Linked DNA regions of Homo sapiens. The protein of the gene in region 1 interacts with the protein of each later gene in a biochemical or structural test. Each region holds a gene or a part of one and is shown in the gene's direction. Other genes may lie near its edges.

Region 1 (3,500 bases):
GCATGAGCCACCATGCCCGGCCTGGTTTCCTTTCTTAACCCGGCTGCATCCCATGACCTATGAGGAAACCACCTGCTCAGTTACCAGTCACCCTGTGCCTCAGCTCCCCCATGTGTGAGAGGGGGGCCGCAAGGGCACCCACCTCACAGGGTTATAGTATCTAAGTGAGTTAATAGTCACCGTATTTCCAATCAGTGGCTGGTGGTTAGCAAGGTGAAAAAGGTTAGCTCCCATCGGTCAGGGAGACCTCCGGGTTCTCTCATGCGGGCCAGGAGGCGGGGAAGGCCTTAGTTGCTTTTGACCTTAGGGCAATGTTGTTCTCTCATCTAAACTGCAGGCCACAAAGGTGGGTTTTCTGGGTGCTGGATTCAGACACAGAAGGCTCTGCTGAGGGGAGTGGGGTTGGCTTTCCCTCTAAGCAGATTATAAGGGTCCTACCCCGCTCCCAACTCAGCTCTCTCCCAGCTCTGAGTGAGGCTTCCCTTGGCTGTGTAGACTGTCCCAAAGTAGTTTATTTGTTTCTTTCTTCCCTCTCCCCCTGAAGGAAATCAAAGACAGGCCTCAGCCTTCTCGCTCCAGATTCCTGGGCCCTTCAACACCAGCCCTGACAGGAAGTTCTTTCACGTATCTCTCTGCAATCCTTGTGCTGGCCAGGCCCTCGGGAGATGTGGCCCCCTCCCCCGGTGCTGCTGTGGGATAGGGGCCTGGGCCCTCCTCTTCCTTTCACTTGTCCCATCCCCCATCCCCTCCCTGCAAGAGCACATCTGGTTTGTGAATCTCTCTCATTCCAGCTTTTGGAGTTTGCCAGCTGCTGTTTCCTCTGTGGAGTTCAGGCCAAAAATGGGGGTGGGGGACAGCGGGGGGGACTCAGTGAGGGCTAAAGGAGGGGGCACCATGGCTGGGATGTGGAATGGAGGGGAGGTTAGGTGACCACCCGGTGACCTCAGGCCGTGGCTGTGCGCTCTGCCCCTGGGAGGAGCAGGGCATGGACCAAGTCCCAGGTGGGTGGCACGGGGGTCTGTTTCTGGGCTCCAAACATCTCATCTGCCTCTGAGTCCCATTCCAGCCCCCCTCTTCCCCCTCAGCCGGCCACGGCTGGTCAGGGGAAGCGGACGGTTCTCCGGCATGCTAACTAGGCTGGCGGGCTGTGTTTCCCGGGAAGACCTCACAGCTGGCCCAGTGGGGCAATGAACTCAGCATTATCCACCTCCTCAAGGGGCCTTTATTCCAGGCTCAGGGTGGGGGCCAGGGGAGGGAGGCTGAAGGGGGAGCCTGGCTAGGCCATCCTTGATGTGTTTCCTGAACTCGGTCATTTTGGCCAGGGGCCTGAGTGCCGTCTCCCCTGCCAGCGGTGGGGGTTAGGAGGGAAGACATCTCAGTGAGGCTCCCATCAGACTCCCTCCCTCCTAAGAGCCCCCCCCCCCCGCCATTTTCCTTATACTTCTGTCTCTGCCCTGCATTTGCATTAGTTGGGTACAGCTGTCTTCTCAGGCGACTCTGGCTCCTGCAGGGCAGAGGGTCATCTCACCCTCCTTGGCACCCTGATGCCTAGTGCAGTGCCTGGCATAGAGCTGGCCTTCAGTGTGTGCCAGCAGAATAGAAATGTGATGGCACAGTCTGAGGAAAAGCCACGAAAGGCCAGGAGACTGGGAGCTCAGCCTTGGGTGGGGGAGAAGGGGTGGGTGACTGTTCCTCCTGTGGAGGATGTGGTGATAGAGGTTGGGAGGAGTGGGAATTCGGAGGACTGGTGTGGATTTCACTGGTTCAGAGCTTGGAGTCAGCTTAGCTGGTTTTGTCACTTGCCAGCTATTTGACCCTGGCCAAGTCACCTGGCTCAATTTCTTCATCTGTGAAATGGTGGTATTAGTTGTCCCTATTTGTCATACTGTGGAGGGAATTAAATATGATGATACATGGAAAAAACTGCTTTACCACAGTTCCTGGCACATACTGAGCCCACAATAAGAGTTAGTTGTCAGCCGGGTGCGGTGGCTCACGCCTGTAATCCCAGCACTTTGGGAGGCTGAGATGGATGTATCAGATGAGGTTGGGAGTTCGAGACCAGCCTGACCAACATGGAGAAACCCCGTCTCTACTAAAAATACAAAATTAGCCATGCGTGGTGGCGCATGCCTGTAATCCCAGCTACTCTGGAGGCTGAGGCAGAAGAATCACTTGAACCCGGGAGGCAGGGGTTGCAGTGAGCCAAGATCGTGCCATTGCACTCCAGCCTGGGCAACAAGAGCAAAACTCTGTCTCAAAAAAAAAAAAAAAACAACAGAGTTAGTTGTCACCATTCTTAATTCCTCCTTGGGGGATGAGGGAAGAGAATGGGGTAGGAGTGGAAGAAGCCTGATTGGGGTGGGAGGGTAGGGCCAAGAGGTCCTGAATATAGTAGCTAACTAGTTGGACTGGACTGAAACCAGTTCCTAGAGTTCATTTCAGCCATCCCCCTGCCTCTGCTCCCCAATTCTGATATCTTGAAAATCTTTAGGTGCTTCTTAACTCTAAGGATGTCTACTGAAAGTCTCCCTGAGGTCTAACCAAGGGAGGCTGTGTCTTTAGAGAATGGAGAGGACAAGGCAGGTGGATCACCTGAGGTCAGGAGTTTGAGACCAGCATGGCCAACATGGTGAAACCCCGTCTCTACTAAAAATACAAAAACTAGCTGGACATGGTGATGCATGTCTGTAGTTCCAGCCACTGGGGAGGCCGAGGCAGGAGAATCGCCTGGGCCCAGGAGGTGGAGGTTGCGGTGAGCTGAGATTGTGCCACTGCACTCCAGCCTGGGGGACAGAGTGAGACCTTGTCTCAAAAAAAAAAAAAATAGGGAATGGAAATGGAAGCAAGGCTCTCTACCCTGCCCATTCCTGCCCAGCCTTGCCCTCCTGTGCCTCTGCTAATACCATCTCCAACTACTACTGTGTGTGCCAAGGGCATCCCTCCCCACTGCTCCCATCTGGGGGCCTAGTGATTAGGGGTTGGGAAGGATGGGGTGATGGGTCAGGGGACCAGGAGTGTCCCAGAAGGCAGGGAAGCAGAGAGGTTAGATAAGACCAGCTCGGGGCCTCTAGTAGTAGGAGTTAGAGGAAGACAAAGAGAAAACATGTCAAGGCCTAAATGCACCCCCCTTCACCATCACTCTGTCATCAAAGCCAGGGGGTGCTGGTGTCTGATGAGAGTAACCAAGAATAGCAAAGGCTTTGACCCTGACTCCCAGGAACAGGCAGCCTAGAGGACTTGGAGGGGTGCAGTAAAATGTGCTTCTGGATCCTCCCCACCCCCACCGCAGATACACAGTGTCTAGGAACTACCCAAAGCCACCCCCTGACACCCCCAGGCACATAGACCATGGCTGAGGGTCTGGGCCAGATGGAGACTGATGCTAGGGAAGGAAGAGCAGTACTAGGGGACTTTGGGTTCACAGAGTTGGCCTCCATCCTTCATTTATATCCCCTTTTCTTTCCTTGCCCTAGCCCCTAAGACTTGCAGCCCCAAGC
Region 2 (3,500 bases), on another chromosome or scaffold:
CTCCTCAGTGACCTTTTTGCTGCCCTTGTCCTGCTGTCTACCCTCCCCAGCAGCCTGGGACCATGCCCATGGCCGTTCCTTCCTGCCTTTTTGCCCTACCCTGCAAACTTGATCTTTGCTACTTTTCTTCTTCCTTTCTGTTTTTGGAAAAGACCATTTATATATTTTCTTTGGAGAATGTCTATTCTGATCCTTTGCTCATTTAAAAGTTGGATTGGCTTTTTACTATTGAGTTCCCTCCTTTCTAATAGTTTTATTGAGATGTAGTTCACATACCATACAATTCACTAATTTAAAATGTATAATTTAGTGATTTTTAAGATATTACAGATCTGTACTACCAGCACCACAGTCAATTTTAGAACATTTTCATCACATTAAAAAGAAACACTAGGCTGGGCGCGGTGGCTCACTGCTGTAATCCCAGCATTTTGGGAGGCCAAGGCGGGTGGATCACTTGAGGTCAGGAGTTCAAGACTAGCCTGGCCATCATGGTGAAACCCCATCTCTACTAAAAATACAAAATTAGCTGGGCATGATGGCACACACCTGTAATCCTTACCCCCTGCGTCTTCCCAGACCTGAACAGCCACTAATCTACTTGCTGTCTCTAGATTTGCCTATTCGGGACATTTCATATTTATGGAATTATACAATATGTGGTCTTTTGTGTCTGACTTCTTTGCCTTAGTGTTGTGTTTCAGGGTTCATCTATAATTTATCAGTACTTAATTCCTTTATATGGCTGGATAATATATCATTGTATGGATATACCACATTTGGTTTGTTCATTCATCAGCTGAGGCACATTTAGGTTGTTTCCATTTTTGCCTCTTAAAAATAATGCTATAAACATTCATGTACAAGTTTTTGTGCAGGCATGTTTTTATTTTTATTTTTTAAAATTTATCTTGGGTAAAAGTAAAATGGCTGGGTCCCATGGTAACCATGTGTGACCATTTGTGGGACTTCCAATGTGGCTGCATCGTTTTACCTTTCCACCAGCAGTGTGTTCATATCTTCACCAATGCTTGTTGTCTGACTTTTTGATTCTAGCCATCCTCCTGGGTGTGAAGTGGGATTTCATCATAGTTTTGATTTGCATTTCCCTTTTGAACAACATAGAATGTCTCCTCATTCCCTAGGAAGCAGACTCAGAGAAAAAAAAAAAGACCATCTTTTCATGTGTTTTTTGGCCATTTATATATTTTCTTTGGAGAAATGTCTATTCTGATCCTTTGCCCATTTAAAAGTTGGATTGGCTTTTTTACTATTGAGTTGTAAGAGTTCTTTATATATTCTGGATTCAAATCCCTTATATAGATTTGCAATATTTTTACCCATTCTGTGGTCTTTTCACTTTCTTGGTATTGTCCTTTGAAACACAAAGTTTTAAATTTTGGTGAAGTCCAATTTTTTTTCTTTTTCCCTCATTTTGAGATCCATCTGCCTTCCATGTCCTGTTAGTCTGCCCTTGTCCTCTTAATTATGCCCTTCACTCCCCACCCCCACCCTGGCACAGTTACATCTCCTGGGCACTGGCTTACTCCTCCCTGCCTAAGAGTATGCTATGGCCTTCCCTGTATGAAATACCTCTTCTTTCCACCTCTTTCTTTAATTAACATGTTGTCTTTCTCCTCCTTTCACAGCTAAGCCTTGTGAGAGAGTACTCCACCCTCTGCAGTATCTCAGTCTTCATTCAGTCCCTGGCCACTTCCTTCCAACTTCTGTCCTGGCTGCTGTACTGAAATTGCTCTGCTGCCCCCTTCTCTATCCTCATCCTTTTTGACTTTTCTTCCTGAGCTGCCTGTCCTAGTCCTCTGTGGAATGCCTCATTGGGCTCTCTGTGCCTGCTTGCAGTCAGCCAGCCCCTTGCCCCTGCCCATACCTCCTTCTTTTGTGGCTGTTCTACCTCCTCCCTTTGCCCTCTACTGTGAGTGCTCCATTCCCTCTCCTTTGGATTCTATCTACTCCCACTCTTCTGTTATGCAGGCTGCTGGCTCTCTACTTCAGTCCAGACTCCACATCTTTATGCGCAGCTTCCTGCTGGTCATCTGTACCTGAATGTGTTGCTGTCCCTATCACTCAACAAGCTGGAAATCAAATTTCTCTTCTGACTTCATTGTCTTTTAACGACCCCACCATCCTCTTGGGCACATGGGCCTGACACTTTAAAGTACCCCTTGTATTCTTTGATTTAACAGCCAACTCAAATTTGCTGTTTACTGGGTACCTATGATGTCCAGGCTCTACTCTCCTGTACCCCACATCAAGTTAGGTGCCAAATCCTCTTGAATGTTCCCAGTGACATCCATCCACCCACCCTGGCTGGTCCATCACCCGTTCAGATGCTCCACCCCCTCCCCTGTTATCAGGGCCATCAATAACCTTCTGAAGGCCTCCAGTGTCCCACTTGTTCTCTGATCCCCCTCATCCCTTAAACTTTTGCCCTATCAATTTTCTTGAAATGGTTATCCTCCCACTCAAAAACATGAAAAGTTTCTGTACCTACTATATTAGAACCAAAATTCTTAGTATGATATTCAAGGCTGTTTTTGAACAATTCCCTTTAATCACCCTGGGCTTCAACCCAACTGTAGTACCCACCATTCCCTTAACCCTCACTGCAGTTTCCCACCCCGTTCACAAGTCACTCTGTGAAGTGGATGTTACCAGTCCCACCTGCTTTGTATTAGAGCTGCTTGTCCTGTCCAATTTTCATCCCTACATTGTCATTGTCAGGGTCCATGTCACTCTGCCCCCGTGTCTTCCACAGCCCTGAGTACAGTGCCTTGCACATAGAAAATGTATTTTGAATGAAAGAGATGATCCCTATAAGATGGCCAGGACCCTCCTGGGTCACCCAATGGTGAGAGGTGCCTTAATTGACTCTCCACTCCTCCCCACCATTTCTCTTGCTTTAGTCTAGTAACTTCCGGTTCCCAGTGGCTTGAGGGACCCCCCAGCATGGCCTCTTTCTGATACCCCCAATCTCACACAGTGCTGATTCCTTCCAATGAAAATACCAAGTAAGCATTTTTTTTTCCTGAATTAAATAAAATTCCACTGATGGATGTCCAGTGGAATTAGAATCTGAATATAGAACATATGGCCAATTTCAGGAGTAGGTAATTGTCATTTCTCAATTGTCATTTATGTAAGAAACATTTTCAACTTGTTTTCTCATTAATGAATTGATGTCTTTTTTTTTTCCTAATTCATGGTTTATTTTCTGTAATTTGCTACTTTGCAATTTTTATGACATGAATTTGGTTGGTAGCATAGCATGGCATGAATTCAGGAGCCAAACTGTGTTTGGGTTCAAATCCTGGCTCTATCCCTCACTTGCTACTTGACTTTGTGTGAGTTATGTAACATCTTTCCTTTAGCGTTCTCATTTGTAAAAAGAGGATACAAATATCTCATACTTCGTAGGGTTAATGGGAGGATTGAATCAGTAGTACCTGTAAATGGCCTAGCACCGTGCATGACACAGAGTT
Region 3 (3,500 bases), on another chromosome or scaffold:
TGGGTTGTTGAGTTAATTGATGAACTCATAGATGACATACAATTTATCTTTTTATTCTTGTGTCACTTGTGCTTTTGATGTCACATCTAGGAAGGCTTTGTCTAGCCCAAGGCCACATTTACTTCCATATTTTCTTCTAAGAGTTTGATAGTTGTAGCTGTTACATATATGTCTATGATCTAGTTTGAATAAATTTTTGTGTATGGTGTGAAGAAGAGGTCTAACCTCTTTTTTATTTTTTGCATGTAAACATCCAGTTGTCCCGGCACCATTTGTTGAAAATATGATTCTTTTCCCATTAAGTCATCTTGACACCCTTGTTGAAAATCAATTGACCATAAATGTGAGAGTTTATTTCTGAACTCTCCATTCTGTTCCATTGACCCATACGTCTTCTATAAATTCTTATAGCTAATTCTACATTAGACTTTGGTTTTTCAGATGTGGTCATCTCATTAGATTATGGTGATATGTTTGGTTACAAGTTTTATCTTCTCCTTGGCAACATTTTTTTTATTACTGCTCTTCTTTTATTCGTTTTTGTTGTTCCTTTCTCTTTTTGTGAGACAGGGTCTCACTCTGTTGCCCAGGGTGGAGTAAGTGGTGTGATCATGGCTCACTGCAGCCTCAACCTCCTGGGCTCAAGCAATCCTCCCACCTCAGCCTCCCAAGTAGTGGGACTACAGGCATGCACCATCATGCCAGGCTAACTTTTTTATTTTTTGTAGAGACAGGGTCTTGCTTTGTTGCCCAGGCTGGTCTTGAACTCCAAGCTCAAGCAATCCTCCAACCTCAGCTTCCCAAAGTGCTGGGATTACCAGTATGAGCCACTGCACCTGGCCTTGTTGTTCCTTTCTTCCTTTTATCTTGTAGTATCTTGATCCTTTTTGCTTATTATTTATCATTGAGGTGAGTTTGTTCTAAATAAACTTTTCGCAGAAAGTTTATGTAGATATATTAATATCAATGAGGCATTAGGAGTGAGTTTTAGATTAGCAGGAATTCTCTTATGAAAGGTATTGATTGTATGTGTGAGTTTTCAGCCTTTACTTCTCTCCAGCCCATCAAGATCAAAGCTGCAGAGTTGTTTACATTTCAGAATTTCTTTCCTCCCCTCCCCACCTTGCAAAACAGACTTACAGTGCAAAAATGACTTGTCAATGTGATTCTTTCTTCTGGTCCCATCTTTCCTACCTTTTGAGACTTGTGTTGAAAGGAGTCCAGTAAAACCACCGATGCTAGCTTGTATACCCTGATCCCATTGTTATAATGAATGACTGACTGTTTTTCATATCAAAGTATAATACTTGCACCTTGATAGAAGAAAGAAACAAGGCCAGGCACAGTGGTTCATGCCTGTAATCCCAGCACTTTGGGAGGCTGAAGTAGGAGGAATAATTAGACTTTGATATTAAAAATGGGGAAGATATGGCGGTATAAGATATGAGGAAGTATGTCTTCTTGGACTTTTCTGAAATCTGCCAGCCATGAGCATCCACTCTTTTTATCTTTTGATACCTGTTTTATATTAACTATACTTCTATTTTGTGGTTTCATGGCTTCAGATATCTTCCAGCTTAATTGTACTCTGTCTTTAATTATTTGCAGCAATTTCTGAAAGGAGCAAGAAGAAAGGCCAGCCCTTTCTTCACTACCTTAAAAACTGGTCATCTTTTGAAACCCCATGAAAGGCACAGTGGGTGACCATCTACATCAGGAGTGGGCAAACTATGGCCCTTGGGTAGTCTGGTCTCTGTCCGTTTTTGTAAGGTTTTATTGGAACCCATACACACACAAACTGATCATCTCTTGTTATGTGTTAAGTTTTCTTATAATTATTCTTTTCTATTTCATCCAGCTGAATTACCATTTCACCTTGTGTATGCCCTTTCCAGTCTTAAATTATAGAAGCTATGTCTTTGTGGTTTTAAATTATGGAAGCTGTGCCTTCTTGTGTTTTAGTATGGCAAGATATTTGTTCTTACTTTTCCTCTAGAATCTGCAGTGGATTACTTTCAGAAGTAGGTATTGCCTCTAAGTTTCCTGACTTCTGTTTCCTTCTCCCTGTTCTGTAGTATATTTATAGATTGCATGTTTTCTCGTCCTTAAACAAGGTACAAATATGTTCTGATCAAGGTTTGCTAGCCGAGAGGATAAGTGGCTTGCTCTTAGCCTAACTCTCTGTCTACTTAATGGATGTCGAATTCCCTTCTCAACTCAACAGCTAGTAACTAGTTCCAAGATCGGATAATAGCTTACAGAATTAATTAGTTCAGTGAAAGCCCTGGTTTGATCACAGAGGCAGGAGACTGATCTATATATTTGTAGTGCTGACTAGACCCCAACTTGGCCAGATAGCTTATACCTATGTCAGAAGTTGGAGGAGGAGATTGACAGCTGAGGTGTCTCCAAGGGAATTACAATTATTTTCATTTTCTTTGTGTCTGTAATTATGTCTCTTTTCTTACTTCAAATTTTGTATATGTGAAATTTCTTAATTTTTATTTGGTTATTTATTTTATTGACTTTTTCATCAAACAACCAACTCTAAGTTCTTGGATTGAAATTTATGAATTAATTATAATGTTTTAAATTTACCATTAGTCACACATACAATACAAAAAGATATTTTCATTACAAAATTTTAACCCAAGCCATTAAAACTAAACTCCAGCTTGGTCACCATTCCTAATACCAGGCCCCTCTCAGAGGGGAGGGTAAATAAAAGTCCATTTTGGTAACTAGTTTGACGAGAATCTCTAATTGTTTCCCTGTTTTTCTTATAATGTCTGCCTTTGAATTATCCTCTTTTTTTCAAGAGTTCCATCATATAATGTATTCCTTTTTGCTTACAGATTGACCTCCTAGAGGCATGCATCCCCCTGCTCCAGTCTGAGCTGGTTCTCTCTAGGCCTGAGGCTCAGTTATCAACTTGGGACTTTTATTTACCCTCCCTCAGGATAGGTACCTGGTTCTTGGATACCAGGTCTTACTCTTGTTTGAGATACTCCTTTATTTTGGTGGCAAACATTCCATAATCACTTCCTGATAATGGTGACATTTGAGGTAGATTTTCTGAGTCTTTATATGTTAGAATATGTTTTTATTCTCCTTTGCCACTTGATTGATAATTTGGCTGCACATAGAATGTAAGCATTCACAGGGCTTTTGGGAGCAGCTTCCCTTGAGAAGAAGGTGGATGCAGTTAAGATCTTCCCTGAAAAGACTGTGTGAAATGACAAGGCTATTGAGGTACCCAACGGGTAGCTTGGTAAAGGTGTATCTTGTCTCTTATGTTTATGCATCTACTTTACCACCATGTAATTAGCCTATTATAACTTGTTGCATTCCTTCACTCAGCTAATCTTGTTCATGGTAGAAATTAATATTGCTAGTACCATGGTAGAATTTTATATTAGCTGGATCCTAGACCTAAATGCTCCTTCCTTGTGCTTACATATTCTGCAAGTGGGTGACAGTGGATGCTAGGTATTGTGTTA
Region 4 (3,500 bases), about 55 Mb from region 1:
AACAAACTATAAACTTATTCCCCAAGAACAAATATAATAATTTTTCTGGAGTAGCAGGTAAGAAAGATATAAATTTATATGTATACAAGAAACTGAAATTAGACTTTATACATTTAAAGGTTACAAGTGCAGTTTTATTACATGAATGTATTATCCAGCATTGAAGTCTGGGCTTTTAGTGTAACCAGCACCTGAATAACATACATTGTACCCATTAAGTAATTTCTCATCCCTCAAACCCCTCCCACCCTGAAATTAGACTTTGGATCCCTAGTTTAAATTCCACCCCTCTCTTTTTTTGAGACAAGGTCTCACTCTGTCACCCAGGCTGGAGGGCAATGTTGCAATGATAGCTTACTGTAGCCTCAACCTCCTGGGCTCAAGGGATACACCCTCCTCAGCCTCCTGAGTAGCTGGAACTGCAGGCGTGCACCACCACATTCAGCTAATTTTTTGATTTTTTTATAGAGATGAGGTCGGAACTCCTGGGCTCAAGCGATTCTCCCCAAGTGCTGGGGTTACACACATGGGCCACTGCCCCCAGCCTAAACCTCCTTTCTCAGTATAGCAGCCTTGAGATGAAGTTCCTGAAATTACTGGCCAGCTTGACTGTTTCCCCACATCACTGGAGGAGGGGGATGCATAGATAAAACAAAATATTCAGCATCATTGTATTTTCTTTTTGTTTCATCAGCATCTTTTTTTAAAACTCACTTGACATAAGTCCCTAGCCTCAAAGAGTAAAGCCTTTGCAGAATCTGCATTCAGATTTCGGGTGTGATTTCCTGACAGATAGTTCAGGTTTGTAAACTCTTTTTTTTTTCTTTGAGACAGAGTTTCACTCTTGTAGCGCAGGCTGGAGTGCAGTGGCACCATCTTGCCTCACTGCAACTTCTGCCCCCTTGATTCACGCGATTCTCCTGCCTCAGCCTCCTGAGTAGCTGGGATTACAGGCATGCGCCACCACACCTGGGTAATTTTTGTATTTTTAGTAGAGATGGGGTTTCACCATGTTGGCCAGGCTGGTTTTGAACTCCTGACTTCAGGTGATCTACCTGCCTCAGCCTCCCAAAGTGATGGGATTACAGGTGTGAGCCACCGCAGCCGGCCAAAACTTTGTTTTTTTTCCTCTTTTTGTTGCTGAGAAATGTAAACTCTTACAGACACAAATTATGTCTCCCATTTTTTAAAACCCACTCAACACAGGGGTCATGTGTAATAGGCCCTGGAGCTTATTTTAGACATTGATTTGAGGCTCTTTTCCCCAAGTGCTGGTTTGTGTGTGTGTGTATGTGTGTGTAAGTCTTTCTATGAGATGAGTGGTACCTACCTGGGCTGTGTGATCTTTTTTATTTTATTTATTTTATTTTTGTAGATACGAGGTCTCACTATGTTGCTCAGGCTGGTCTTGAACTCTGGGGCTCAACCTATCCTCCCTCCTTGGCCTCCTAGAGTGCTGAGATTACAGGTGTGAGCCACTGCACCTGGCCAGCGATCCTTAATAAATATAGATAATGGCCGGGCGTGGTGGCTCACACCTATAATACCAGTACTTTGAGGGGCCGAGGCTGGCAGGTCACCTGAGCTGAGGAGTTTGAGACCAGCCTGGGTAACGTGGGTGAAACCCTGTCTCTACAGAAAATAGAAAAATTAGCCAGGTGTGGTGGTGCATGCCTGTAGTCACAGCTACTTGGGAGGTTGAGACAGGAGAATTGCTTGAACCTGGAAGGTGGAGGTTGCAGTGAGCCGAGATCGTGTCTTTGAACTCCAGCCTGGGTGACAGAGTGAGACCTTGTCTCAAAAAAAAATATAGATATAGGCTGGGCGTGGTGGCTCACACCTGTAATCCCAGCACTTTGGGAGGCCGAGGCGGGTGGATCAGGAGGTCAGGAGATCGAGACCATCCTAGCTAACATGGTGAAACCCTGTCTCTACTAAAAATACAAACAATTAGCCAGGCCTGGTGGTGGGTGCCTGTAGTCCCAGCTACTCGGGAGGCTGAGGCAGGAGAATGGCGTGAACCCGGGAGGTGGAGGTTGCAGTGAGCCGAGACTGTGCCACTGCCCTCCAGCCTGGGCGACAGAGCGAGACTCTGTCTCAAAAAAAAAAAATCTATATATCTATATATCTATATCTATATAGATATAGATATAGATAATGCCAGATGATGGCTGGTTAGAAGGGATTGTCAGGGGCTGGCAGGTTTTGCAGGTGTTAGAATGAGCAAGATGAGGAGAAGGATGCTTACTTCCCTCTCCTTGTAACTCTCTACCCCCTCCCCTCAGTGTTTTTTTATTTTTATTTTTATTTATTTATTTTTTTTGAGACAAGGTCTTGCTCTGTCACCCACACTGGATTGCAGTGATGCAATCATAGCTCATTGAAGCCCAAACTCCTGGGCTCAAGTGATCCTCTTGCCTCAGCCTCCCAAGTAACTGGGACCACAGGTGCGTACAACTATGCCCAGTTAAGTTTTTCATTTTTTATACAGACGGGGTCTTGCTATGCTGTCCAGGCTGGACTTGCACTTCTGGCTTCAAGTGATTCTCTTGCCTCAGTTTCCCAAAGTGCTGGCATTATGGGCATAAGCCACTGTGCCTAGCCCATCAGTGTCTTTTTATCCTTTACTCCTATCAAAATTCATTCACTCAGCAGCCATTGATCAAGTGCCTACTATATACATGTTGAGGACTGGAAATTTATTTGTCTCTTCTCATCTTATCTGGACCCTCTGTGTTAATTGTAATTAACTGTAATCATTCTGTATTAATTGTAATAAACTTGTTGATAAACTCAAATGAGGCCATACCGTTTTGCCACTTCCCCTCCTTCCAGGTTATATGGATGTACTTACATTGCAGGTTTCATTTGTTGGTTCAGTTTTTAAACTAAGCCCTATTGTGTCAAATTATGCTAGGTGTGAGATGGGGAGTTCAAGCTGTGTGTTGTCTTTTTTTTTTTTTTTTTTTTTGCCTCACTTACTAATATACAAGCGCTTATAACCTTTGAGGCTGGCCCTATACATTAAGATTTTTATTAATTCCACTGTTCTTTATCTTCTCTTACTAAGTTCTCAGGGTCGAATGAACTCTAACTGCTCCTTGCTAGTGATAAGCAAGTTGCAAATTACAGAATTGTCAGTGATTGAATACACGTATTAAACCTGTAACTGGGAAGCATTTTTGGTAATTATGAATACTTTTGGAAAAAAAAAAGCTATGGAAGGAAAGTTTAAAATCTACGAAAGCTCAAGTAGATGGTCATGGAATAGCTATTTCAATTTCTAACTATATATTACTTATTTATTTATTTATTTTTGAGACGGAGTTTAGCTCTTGTTGCCCAGGCTGGAGTGTAATGGCGTGATCTCAGCTCACTGCAACCTCCACCTCCCGGGTTCAAGCTATTCTCCTGCCTCAGCCTCCCGAGTAGCTGGGATTATAGACATGTGCCACCACGCCAGGCTAATTTTGTATTTTTAGTAGAGACGGGGTTTCTCC
Region 5 (3,500 bases), on another chromosome or scaffold:
CTACACAGCAATGTAAATGAACTACTGCTGTACAAAACAACATGGTTTAATCTCACAGACAAAATGTTAAATGAAAGACACAGACGAGTACATATTGCGAACTTCTGTTTATAATTCAAGAACTGGCAAGAACTGTTTACTGTGTTAGAAGTCCAGGTAATGGTAACCTATAAAAAGGAAAAAGGGTGGAATGATTGGGAGGGGGCATCTTCTGGGGTATTGATAATGTGCTATGTATTGGTCAGTTTAGTGTTTAAACAGGCTCATTTACTTTGTGAAAACTTACACTAAAATTGTGTGTATTTTTTGAATATATGTTATACATTAATAAATAGGGTTTTTAAACCTGTAGTTCATAATTTAGTGAAAGTAGAATATCCAAACATTTAGTTTTAAACCAATCAATTATAGTGCTACCATCATTTTTATGCATTATTGAGAAGTTTATTTTACCTTTCTTTCCACTCTTATTTCAAGGCTCCAAAATTTCTCTCCCCAACGTATATTGGGGGCAACATGAATGCCCCCAATGTATATTTGACCCATACATGAGTCAGTAGTTCCATGTACTTTTTAGAAATGCATGTTAAATGATGCTGTTACTGTCTATTTTGCTTCTTTTAGATGTAACATGTAACATTAAGAATGGCAGATGCGAGCAGTTTTGTAAAAATAGTGCTGATAACAAGGTGGTTTGCTCCTGTACTGAGGGATATCGACTTGCAGAAAACCAGAAGTCCTGTGAACCAGCAGGTCATAATCTGAATAAGATTTTTTAAAGAAAATCTGTATCTGAAACTTCAGCATTTTAACAAACCTACATAATTTTAATTCCTACTTGAATCTGCTTCCTTTTGAAATCATAGAAAATATCAGTAGCTTGAATTAGACCAATTAATTTTCTAGATTGCATCATATTTTAAATATAAACTATGTAATCATCTACAACCTGAATTCTTTCTGTGTCCAATTTGTCCAATTTTTTTCTCTAACATTTATATCACAAAGCAATTAATTTGTGTGATTTCTGCATATGTATTTGTAATTCATCAAGTCAAATCAATGTAGTAATACTATATCATAAAATATACACAAATAATTGAGTGATAGGCTTCTAGTATAAGGACGGTAAGTTTGAAGCATGATTCTATCTGGGCTGGCTAGTTTACTCTGAGAAAGTTATTTTTTATTGTTGGGTCTTAAGCTGAGTTTACACACTTGGTGTCAGAATGATTCCGGCAATGAACTGTTTTATGTTCTGCTAGGCTGATCAGCACAATCTATATGGCTGTGAACAAAACAATGTTTCCCAGTCATGCCAACCATGCCACCATTTTAACAGCTGATTAGTGTATTCAGAACATCTCCACTCCATGTTCGTATGGCTGTTATCTAAAGATGAAAGCAGTAGACACTTTTATTTTTTGAAAAATTTAGGCTCTGCAGGGTCAATTATATTTGATAAATGAGGGGCTTTTTTGAAGCAAACTAGATATAATTTCTTTTGCATTTCTAAAGCCTGATATCTTATTAATTGGTACATTAAATTGTGCACCATTTCTCTGTAACTGTTTCAGTACCTGTCTCAGCACTATACCAGGCAGAAGAAATTAAAGAAAGAACCAGTGCCGAGATCAGCTTGGTCAGGGAGACCCTAATCCTGCGGCACTAGAGGAATTAAAGACACACACACAGAAATATAGAGTATGGAGTGGGAAATCAGGGGTCTCACAGCCTTCAGAGCTGAGAGCCCCGAACAGAGATTTACCCACATATTTATTGACAGCAAGCCAGTCATAAGATTTACTGAAAGTATTCCTTATGGGAAATAAAGGGATGAGTCTGGCTAGTTATCTGCAGCAGGAACATGTCCTTAAGGCACAAATCACTTATGCAATTGTCTGTGGTTTAAGAACACCTTTAAGCAGTTTTCCGCCCTGGGTGGGCCAGGTGTTCCTTGCCCTCATTCTGGTAAACCCACAACCTTCCAGTGTGGATATCAAGGCCATCACGAGCATATCACAGTGCTGCAGAGATTTTGTTTATGGCCAGTTTTGGGGCCAGTTTATGGCCAGATTTGGAGGCCTGTTCCCAACAAACCAGAAGCTAGGAATATATATCCTGCAAATAAAATGAAGAATCTCTAAGGCTTCAGGGCCTGCCCACTTGTTCTTCTGCCTGGTTCTTCACATACACTGTCTCAAAGCTAGTCTACCTTGAGAGGAGCATGAATATGTGTGTGGGTGTGTGTCTGTGTATTTTAACCTTAAAAACCTAACTTCCAGTATAGACAGATGGCATACTAGCTAAACCCTTACAAGTTCTTCTATGCTATAAAAGAGAAACAGAATTGAGAACCACCTCCAACTATTAAGTGTTATATTTGAATATAGCCTTAGCTTTAGCAGAATAAGTAGGCCAAACTTAAAATAAGCTTTTCTGCCTTTTCAATGATAAAGGTCCCTTTTCTGTAGCCATTGTTGATTGTGTACACTTATACATAAGTATTTTGAACTAATTTCCTGTTTTCTCAACCACTTGCTGTCTTCATGATACTTTGTCGCAGCTGGTTGCTATAGAAATGTCTGTTACAAGGAATGTGGCTTGAAGGAAAGTGATAAATGAAAATGAAATGTGAAGTGACTTTGTTTGACTACAAATTCCCATTCTGGTAGTCCCCAGTGTATCAATACATTATTTTTCTTTAGAAAATAAACCAACCCAAGGAAAAATGGTGGGCAGGTCCTGGTGAATATGGCTGTGATAATTATATTAGCAATCTCTTTGGCTAATATTTGAAGCCCAAATAATTGAATCACAATGATCTCTCCCCAGAAAATATATAAAATGCACCTTGGAATCTAGAAGGCCTTTTAGTCTGCAAAAGAAACCTTCTTAATCATAAGCAGCAGAAGTCCCATTTACCAAATTGGAAAGTTAAAGTTACAAAGCATCAATCATAAGACTTCCATTCAGGGATGGCAATTGGGAGTAAGACTTTTTAGTAAAGAAACTAAACACAAAGTCATTAGACTCTGTAAAAGTCTTACCAAATTTGATTCTGGAACACCTATTCTATTTCCGTAAAGATGATGAATTCCGGAGCCAAATGTTCTTTTCATGAAGGATTTGAAAACTGTCCATGAAAATAACGCAATCAACCTTTTAGCTTGAGACTCTATTCACTGATTAGATTTTTTTAAATACTGATGGGCCTGCTTCTCAGAAGTGACAAGGATGGGCCTCAATCTCAATTTTTGTAATACATGTTCCATTTGCCAATGAGAAATATCAGGTTACTAATTTTTCTTCTATTTTTCTAGTGCCATTTCCATGTGGAAGAGTTTCTGTTTCACAAACTTCTAAGCTCACCCGTGCTGAGACTGTTTTTCCTGATGTGGACTATGTAAATTCTACTGAAGCTGAAACCATTTTGGATAACATCACTCAAAGCACCCAATCATTTAATGACTTCACTCGGGTTGTTGGTGGAGAAGATG
Region 6 (2,452 bases), on another chromosome or scaffold:
CAGAACAAACCTGGAAAAAACAAAAACAAAACAAAAGACATCAAAAGCAAAACCTCTCCAAAGACAAAAACTCTGCAATCTTTTTCGTCACTCTTCACCAGGTCATAATAGAGTAACGCCTCAAGAGATTTCTTTTTAGTTTTGATAGAACAATTTATTTGAAAAAAAAATCTGTGAAGAACCTGGCATATGGATTGCTAGGTAATCAGGGAGTATATGTGTGCATGTGATATGTATGCGTACTTTGGGATACAGTAAACAGACAAAGAGGGACATTTGGGGTTGGATGGAAATAGCGATTTTTCATTCTTTGGGCTTTTCAGTATTTTTTATTTTCCTTCAAAGTGTAAACATCAATGTAAAATAAGCTTTTTTTTTCAGTTTGAAAAAGATACTCCACTCCCTTGTATATGCACAGTTCTGAGGCTCCTTCTCAACAATGCTTCTTTACTTTGTTCTAATTTTCTAGATGGTGATAGTAGCCTGGCTGCCTCAGAAAGAAAAGCTCTGCAAACAGAAATGGCACGTATCAAAAAGTGTAAGCTTTTTCTCTTACTCTCCAGGCAGCTTGAAGTTTGGGAAAAATAGAATGCAACAAATATTTGTTGAATGCATATAATTTTCTGTACCCTGCTAGGCATTTCTCATATTCTTACCTCATGAAATTCTCACAACATTTTGGTAGAAATGGAGGCAAAGGGAAGTTAAATTACTTGTTCAAATGCACAGAGCTAATAAATGGCAGGGGTGGTTTATAGATGGAAGTCAGTCTGACTCGAGAGACCCTAATCCTTTACCGTCTGATATTGCTCACTGAAAATGGGACTTATATCCCTTTGTTGCACTGGTATTGAGACCTGGCCGTGGGGTCTAACCTGCCTGGGGCAAATATTTTCAGACATTTTTTGTTTGGTCTCAAGTTAACAATTTAGAATTCAGAAGTCCAAATTATATGTCTTTTAGAATTCTGATCTGAAAGCACAGAGAGGCCTTTGTACCAGTCTGTCTGTTCACATTTGGGTTGCCATATTTAACAAATAAAAAGACAAAGCACCAGTTAAATTGGATTTCAGCTGAAAAACATTTTTAGTATAAGTGTGTCTGAAAAATTATATGGGAGATATACTAAAATATTCATTGTTTGTCTGAAATTCAAATTTAACTGGACATACTATATTTTATCCGGCAACTGTACTCTAGAAGACTTTTTCTTGAGAAATACCTTGAGTTGGGCTTAAGGATGAGTCAGTTTCACCCACTTTTTCACATTTTAGGGCTCACCTTCTCTCTGGGCAAACAAGTTGGGAACAAGTTCTTCCTGACCAATGGTGAAATAATGACCTTTGAAAAAGTGAAGGCCTTGTGTGTCAAGTTCCAGGCCTCTGTGGCCACCCCCAGGAATGCTGCAGAGAATGGAGCCATTCAGAATCTCATCAAGGAGGAAGCCTTCCTGGGCATCACTGATGAGAAGACAGAAGGGCAGTTTGTGGATCTGACAGGAAATAGACTGACCTACACAAACTGGAACGAGGGTGAACCCAACAATGCTGGTTCTGATGAAGATTGTGTATTGCTACTGAAAAATGGCCAGTGGAATGACGTCCCCTGCTCCACCTCCCATCTGGCCGTCTGTGAGTTCCCTATCTGAAGGGTCATATCACTCAGGCCCTCCTTGTCTTTTTACTGCAACCCACAGGCCCACAGTATGCTTGAAAAGATAAATTATATCAATTTCCTCATATCCAGTATTGTTCCTTTTGTGGGCAATCACTAAAAATGATCACTAACAGCACCAACAAAGCAATAATAGTAGTAGTAGTAGTTAGCAGCAGCAGTAGTAGTCATGCTAATTATATAATATTTTTAATATATACTATGAGGCCCTATCTTTTGCATCCTACATTAATTATCTAGTTTAATTAATCTGTAATGCTTTCGATAGTGTTAACTTGCTGCAGTATGAAAATAAGACGGATTTATTTTTCCATTTACAACAAACACCTGTGCTCTGTTGAGCCTTCCTTTCTGTTTGGGTAGAGGGCTCCCCTAATGACATCACCACAGTTTAATACCACAGCTTTTTACCAAGTTTCAGGTATTAAGAAAATCTATTTTGTAACTTTCTCTATGAACTCTGTTTTCTTTCTAATGAGATATTAAACCATGTAAAGAACATAAATAACAAATCTCAAGCAAACAGCTTCACAAATTCTCACACACATACATACCTATATACTCACTTTCTAGATTAAGATATGGGACATTTTTGACTCCCTAGAAGCCCCGTTATAACTCCTCCTAGTACTAACTCCTAGGAAAATACTATTCTGACCTCCATGACTGCACAGTAATTTCGTCTGTTTATAAACATTGTATAGTTGGAATCATATTGTGTGTAATGTTGTATGTCTTGTTTACTCAGAATTAAGTCTGTGAGATTCATTCATGTCAT
Region 7 (3,500 bases), on another chromosome or scaffold:
ATGATATTGGGGAGGAATAGAAAGGACCTAGTCTATAGCTAGGGAGTAATGGACTACGGGGGTTGATGGAAGGAGGTAATGATCAACCGATTTATCAAGACCAAATTCAAATGGAAATTCTGATAATCCTAGTCATCTTATGTAATTTTCTCATTTGAAGTCACAACATGGACTAACACTTTCTTTTTTTTTCTTTCCAAATGTGATAGGAAAGCAAAGATATCCTGTTAGTGGATCTAAACTCTGAAATCGACACCAATCAGAATTCTTTAAGAGAAAATCCATTCTTAACAAACGGCATCACCTCCTGTTCTCTTCCTCGACCAACGCCTCAGGCATCCTTCTTGCCTGAAAATGCCTTTTCTGCCAATCTCAACTTCTTTCCCACCCCTAATCCTGATCCTTTCCGTGACGATCCTTTCACACAGCCAGACCAATCGACACCTTCTTCGTTTGATTCTCTCAAATCTCCAGATCAGAAGAAAGAGAATTCGAGTAGCTCGTCTACTCCGCTGAGTAATGGGCCCCTGAATGGTGATGTTGACTACTTTGGTCAGCAATTTGACCAGATCTCTAACCGGACTGGCAAACAGGAAGCTCAGGCAGGCCCATGGCCCTTTTCAAGTTCGCAAACCCAGCCAGCAGTGAGAACTCAAAATGGGGTATCTGAAAGAGAACAGAACGGCTTCTCTGTCAAATCCTCCCCGAACCCTTTTGTGGGAAGCCCTCCCAAAGGACTGTCCATACAGAATGGCGTAAAGCAGGACTTGGAAAGCTCTGTCCAGTCCTCACCACATGACTCCATAGCCATTATCCCACCTCCACAAAGTACCAAACCAGGAAGAGGCAGAAGGACTGCTAAGGTGAATTGTCTTCTCCACATATCCATTAGCAGAGTGCATGTTCGGTACCAAAGGGTGGTGTGATGCAAGCTCTCTTTCCTGCTGCTCTCGTAGTTTCCTGTGTTGCTGTGAAATAGAAGGTGGGATAAGGCACTTTGGTTCTCCAGGAGTACTTTCCTCTAACTGCCACCGTTTTTAAGCTTCTCAGCAGTGTTTTTCACACCCTGCTTTCCGTGTGCATGTCTTGTCACTTATGATTAAACTAAACACAAGTTTTTCCATTTTTAATGCTGCTATGCTTCTATACCTCTGGTAAGTTTGATCATCGTGTTCTGGGTTGGGAGGGTGAGAGTTCTTGTGATTCCCTTTGTACTTCCCTGACACTAACACATGCCCTGCACACCCATCATGTTGCATCAGTGTCCATGGTGGTGGTATAAAATTCTCGAGCTTATCTCCTCTTTTAAATACTGAGTAAATACATAAGCTTTTTCTAAGCTTATGTATTTACTATTACCACTATGATCTCAGCTTTATTTAAGAGCAATTTAAAATGCAGTTCCCATAGGTGTCTTTTTTTACCTCTCCTAAGAATATACAGGCTTGCCTGGATTAAGACCCTATGATCTCTATGTAGACTGACTTAAAATCCAATGGAATGAACAAAAATATTTAGGATGCTTATTGGTAGTTGCCCCTTTTACACACTTGCTCCCCCAACTTCAAGCATTTAGCGATGAGACCAGACCAATGTGAGTGTGTAAAGGAATATAGTAGATTTCACTTTGCAAGTCCTAGGTAGTGTCAGACACTAAGACTCAGTAGTCCGTCCGTTGTAGGAATCTGTGTCTTTTTTTGGAGGACTCTTTTTCTGTAGTAGTAGTTGTTGTTGTTCATCTGTCAAGAAAAAAGTTTTCCTTTTTGTGGCTCTCAAATTGGGGTATAGGGTAGGAGACAAAATGAGGCTGTATTTCACTGTTAGTGAGTAACTAAGGCTTCTCCCTCCCTCCCTGTCCTGTCAGTCTTCAGCCAATGACTTGCTTGCATCAGACATCTTTGCTCCTCCCGTCTCAGAACCTTCAGGCCAGGCGTCACCCACAGGACAACCTACAGCCCTGCAGCCCAACCCTCTGGATCTCTTCAAAACAAGTGCTCCTGCCCCAGTGGGGCCCCTGGTGGGTCTAGGTAGGTGCCTAGAGATAAAATTAAGTATGACTCTTTTGCTTTTGCTCATAAAATGATGATGCATCGGAAGAGATTTCATACTCCCAGAGGGTTTTACAGCATAAGATTTGAGCATCCCAGGGAGCCCTTCTCCCACTTCTACTATACAACCCCACATCCATTTGATATTCTTGACTTGTAACTCACATTTGGCTCCTCGAGGCAGCATGAGACAAGAAATTCATTTTCAGTATTGTACTTACTTGAACCAACTGGTCATGGTTTCCTGAAAGACAATTGTAAGGGATTCTAAACTCAGACCAGCTTCAGTAGCAAAACAGGGTTGACATAAGAGAGGCTTGTCTGTCAACATGCATGTCTTCCATGTCTTTTGCCATAATAGATCGAAGGCCTATGTCCTTTCAACACATAGCCCTCTTAGAAGGAATATATGCCCAAGAAGGATGTAAGTTAAGTCTGAAGCAAGAATAAGTCATAGAGTGAAAGTCCTAGGTTCTGGGCCCAGCTGTGTTCCTAGGTGTATGGTAAGGGTAGATCAGGCACACATCCTGATCAGTCTCTGAGCACTTCTGCCATAGGAGCTCCTTGCCAATATTTTGGCTAGCTTGAGTGTTTTACTGAAGCTAGAACATAAGTCCTAGAAAGCCAAAGTTGAAAAAAGAGAGAAATAAGGGAAGAGATGGAATTTTATCAGACAGCTAGTATGCATTGACGCTCTTAATTCCTAAATGTGTCATTAGCTTGTGTGAGCCGCTGATCACTCTGTGGTAGGACAGTGGGAAAGTCCACTTGACTGAGGGCTGGCCTTGCTATTCTTAGTCCATAGCCTATAGTTCTTTTCAGACTCCATGGTACAGTTTTCAGAAACCCTGACAATAGTTTTTGCTGTCCTGCTATGGACTCTATTTTTCTTCTCTTGGCACCTCTACAAACTCCAAATGGACTCTGGCTTGGGAGGTGGAGGACTGTAGACGAGGAAGGACTCTCCTCTCCTTCGGTAAAATCTGACCAGGGATCCTGGCTTTCTCTGCCTCCTGCAGTCAGTCATCAGGATCCTTGTTTTGTTTTCCTCTCTGTCTCTGTTGTTTTCCTACAAAGGAAAATAGTTTGGTTCTTTTACAAGAAATCTGTTTAATCATATCTAGAATAGGGTGGCCAGAGGAGGACTGTTACTCAACTGCTGAGTGGCAGAAATCCGTGAGGGTATGAAAAGCCAGCTTGTCCCAGGTCTCTGCTCGCATTTACCCCATCAAGAGGCTCTCTCTAAAGACTTCATGTCTCTTGGGGGCTTCCCCCTTTCTGCGTTGCTCTTTTCCTTGCACCCCCAAGTGGAGCTGGTTGGTACCCTTCCCTCACAGAAGACCAGAGTGCTTGCAATGCAATGTCTGCAGCGAGATCACATCACAGAGCTTTTTATCTGATATCAATGCCCTTAAGAATTTTTGCAGCCAATATTTAACAAGTCAGCCTGAA

What was found.
Region 2: the proteins of LRP1 (region 1) and NOS1AP form a complex in vitro, tested with the Homo sapiens proteins (one study listed by BioGRID).
Region 3: the proteins of LRP1 (region 1) and F8 form a complex in vitro, tested with the Homo sapiens proteins (one study listed by BioGRID).
Region 4: the proteins of LRP1 (region 1) and PTPN11 form a complex in vitro, tested with the Homo sapiens proteins (one study listed by BioGRID).
Region 5: the proteins of LRP1 (region 1) and F9 form a complex in vitro, tested with the Homo sapiens proteins (one study listed by BioGRID).
Region 6: the proteins of LRP1 (region 1) and MBL2 form a complex in vitro, tested with the Homo sapiens proteins (one study listed by IntAct).
Region 7: the proteins of LRP1 (region 1) and DAB2 form a complex in vitro, tested with the Homo sapiens proteins (one study listed by BioGRID).

The regions. Positions count from the first base shown.
Region 1 is NC_000012.12:57,134,983-57,138,482, forward strand, and holds part of LRP1 (prolow-density lipoprotein receptor-related protein 1 preproprotein), read left to right. Parts: intron 1-3,476; coding exon 3,477-3,500. UniProt on the Homo sapiens protein: Endocytic receptor involved in endocytosis and in phagocytosis of apoptotic cells. Required for early embryonic development. Involved in cellular lipid homeostasis.
Region 2 is NC_000001.11:162,076,191-162,079,690, forward strand, and holds part of NOS1AP (carboxyl-terminal PDZ ligand of neuronal nitric oxide synthase protein), read left to right. Parts: intron 1-3,500. UniProt on the Homo sapiens protein: Adapter protein involved in neuronal nitric-oxide (NO) synthesis regulation via its association with nNOS/NOS1. The complex formed with NOS1 and synapsins is necessary for specific NO and synapsin functions at a presynaptic level.
Region 3 is NC_000023.11:154,932,224-154,935,723, reverse strand, and holds part of F8 (coagulation factor VIII isoform a preproprotein), read left to right. Parts: intron 1-3,500. UniProt on the Homo sapiens protein: Factor VIII, along with calcium and phospholipid, acts as a cofactor for F9/factor IXa when it converts F10/factor X to the activated form, factor Xa.
Region 4 is NC_000012.12:112,425,447-112,428,946, forward strand, and holds part of PTPN11 (tyrosine-protein phosphatase non-receptor type 11), read left to right. Parts: intron 1-3,500. UniProt on the Homo sapiens protein: Acts downstream of various receptor and cytoplasmic protein tyrosine kinases to participate in the signal transduction from the cell surface to the nucleus. Positively regulates MAPK signal transduction pathway. Dephosphorylates GAB1, ARHGAP35 and EGFR.
Region 5 is NC_000023.11:139,547,739-139,551,238, forward strand, and holds part of F9 (coagulation factor IX isoform 1 preproprotein), read left to right. Parts: intron 1-624; coding exon 625-753; intron 754-3,323; coding exon 3,324-3,500. UniProt on the Homo sapiens protein: Factor IX is a vitamin K-dependent plasma protein that participates in the intrinsic pathway of blood coagulation by converting factor X to its active form in the presence of Ca(2+) ions, phospholipids, and factor VIIIa.
Region 6 is NC_000010.11:52,767,333-52,769,784, reverse strand, and holds part of MBL2 (mannose-binding protein C precursor), read left to right. Parts: intron 1-469; coding exon 470-538; intron 539-1,274; coding exon 1,275-1,648; 3' UTR 1,649-2,452. UniProt on the Homo sapiens protein: Calcium-dependent lectin involved in innate immune defense. Binds mannose, fucose and N-acetylglucosamine on different microorganisms and activates the lectin complement pathway.
Region 7 is NC_000005.10:39,379,981-39,383,480, reverse strand, and holds part of DAB2 (disabled homolog 2), read left to right. Parts: intron 1-209; coding exon 210-863; intron 864-1,864; coding exon 1,865-2,027; intron 2,028-3,500. UniProt on the Homo sapiens protein: Adapter protein that functions as a clathrin-associated sorting protein (CLASP) required for clathrin-mediated endocytosis of selected cargo proteins.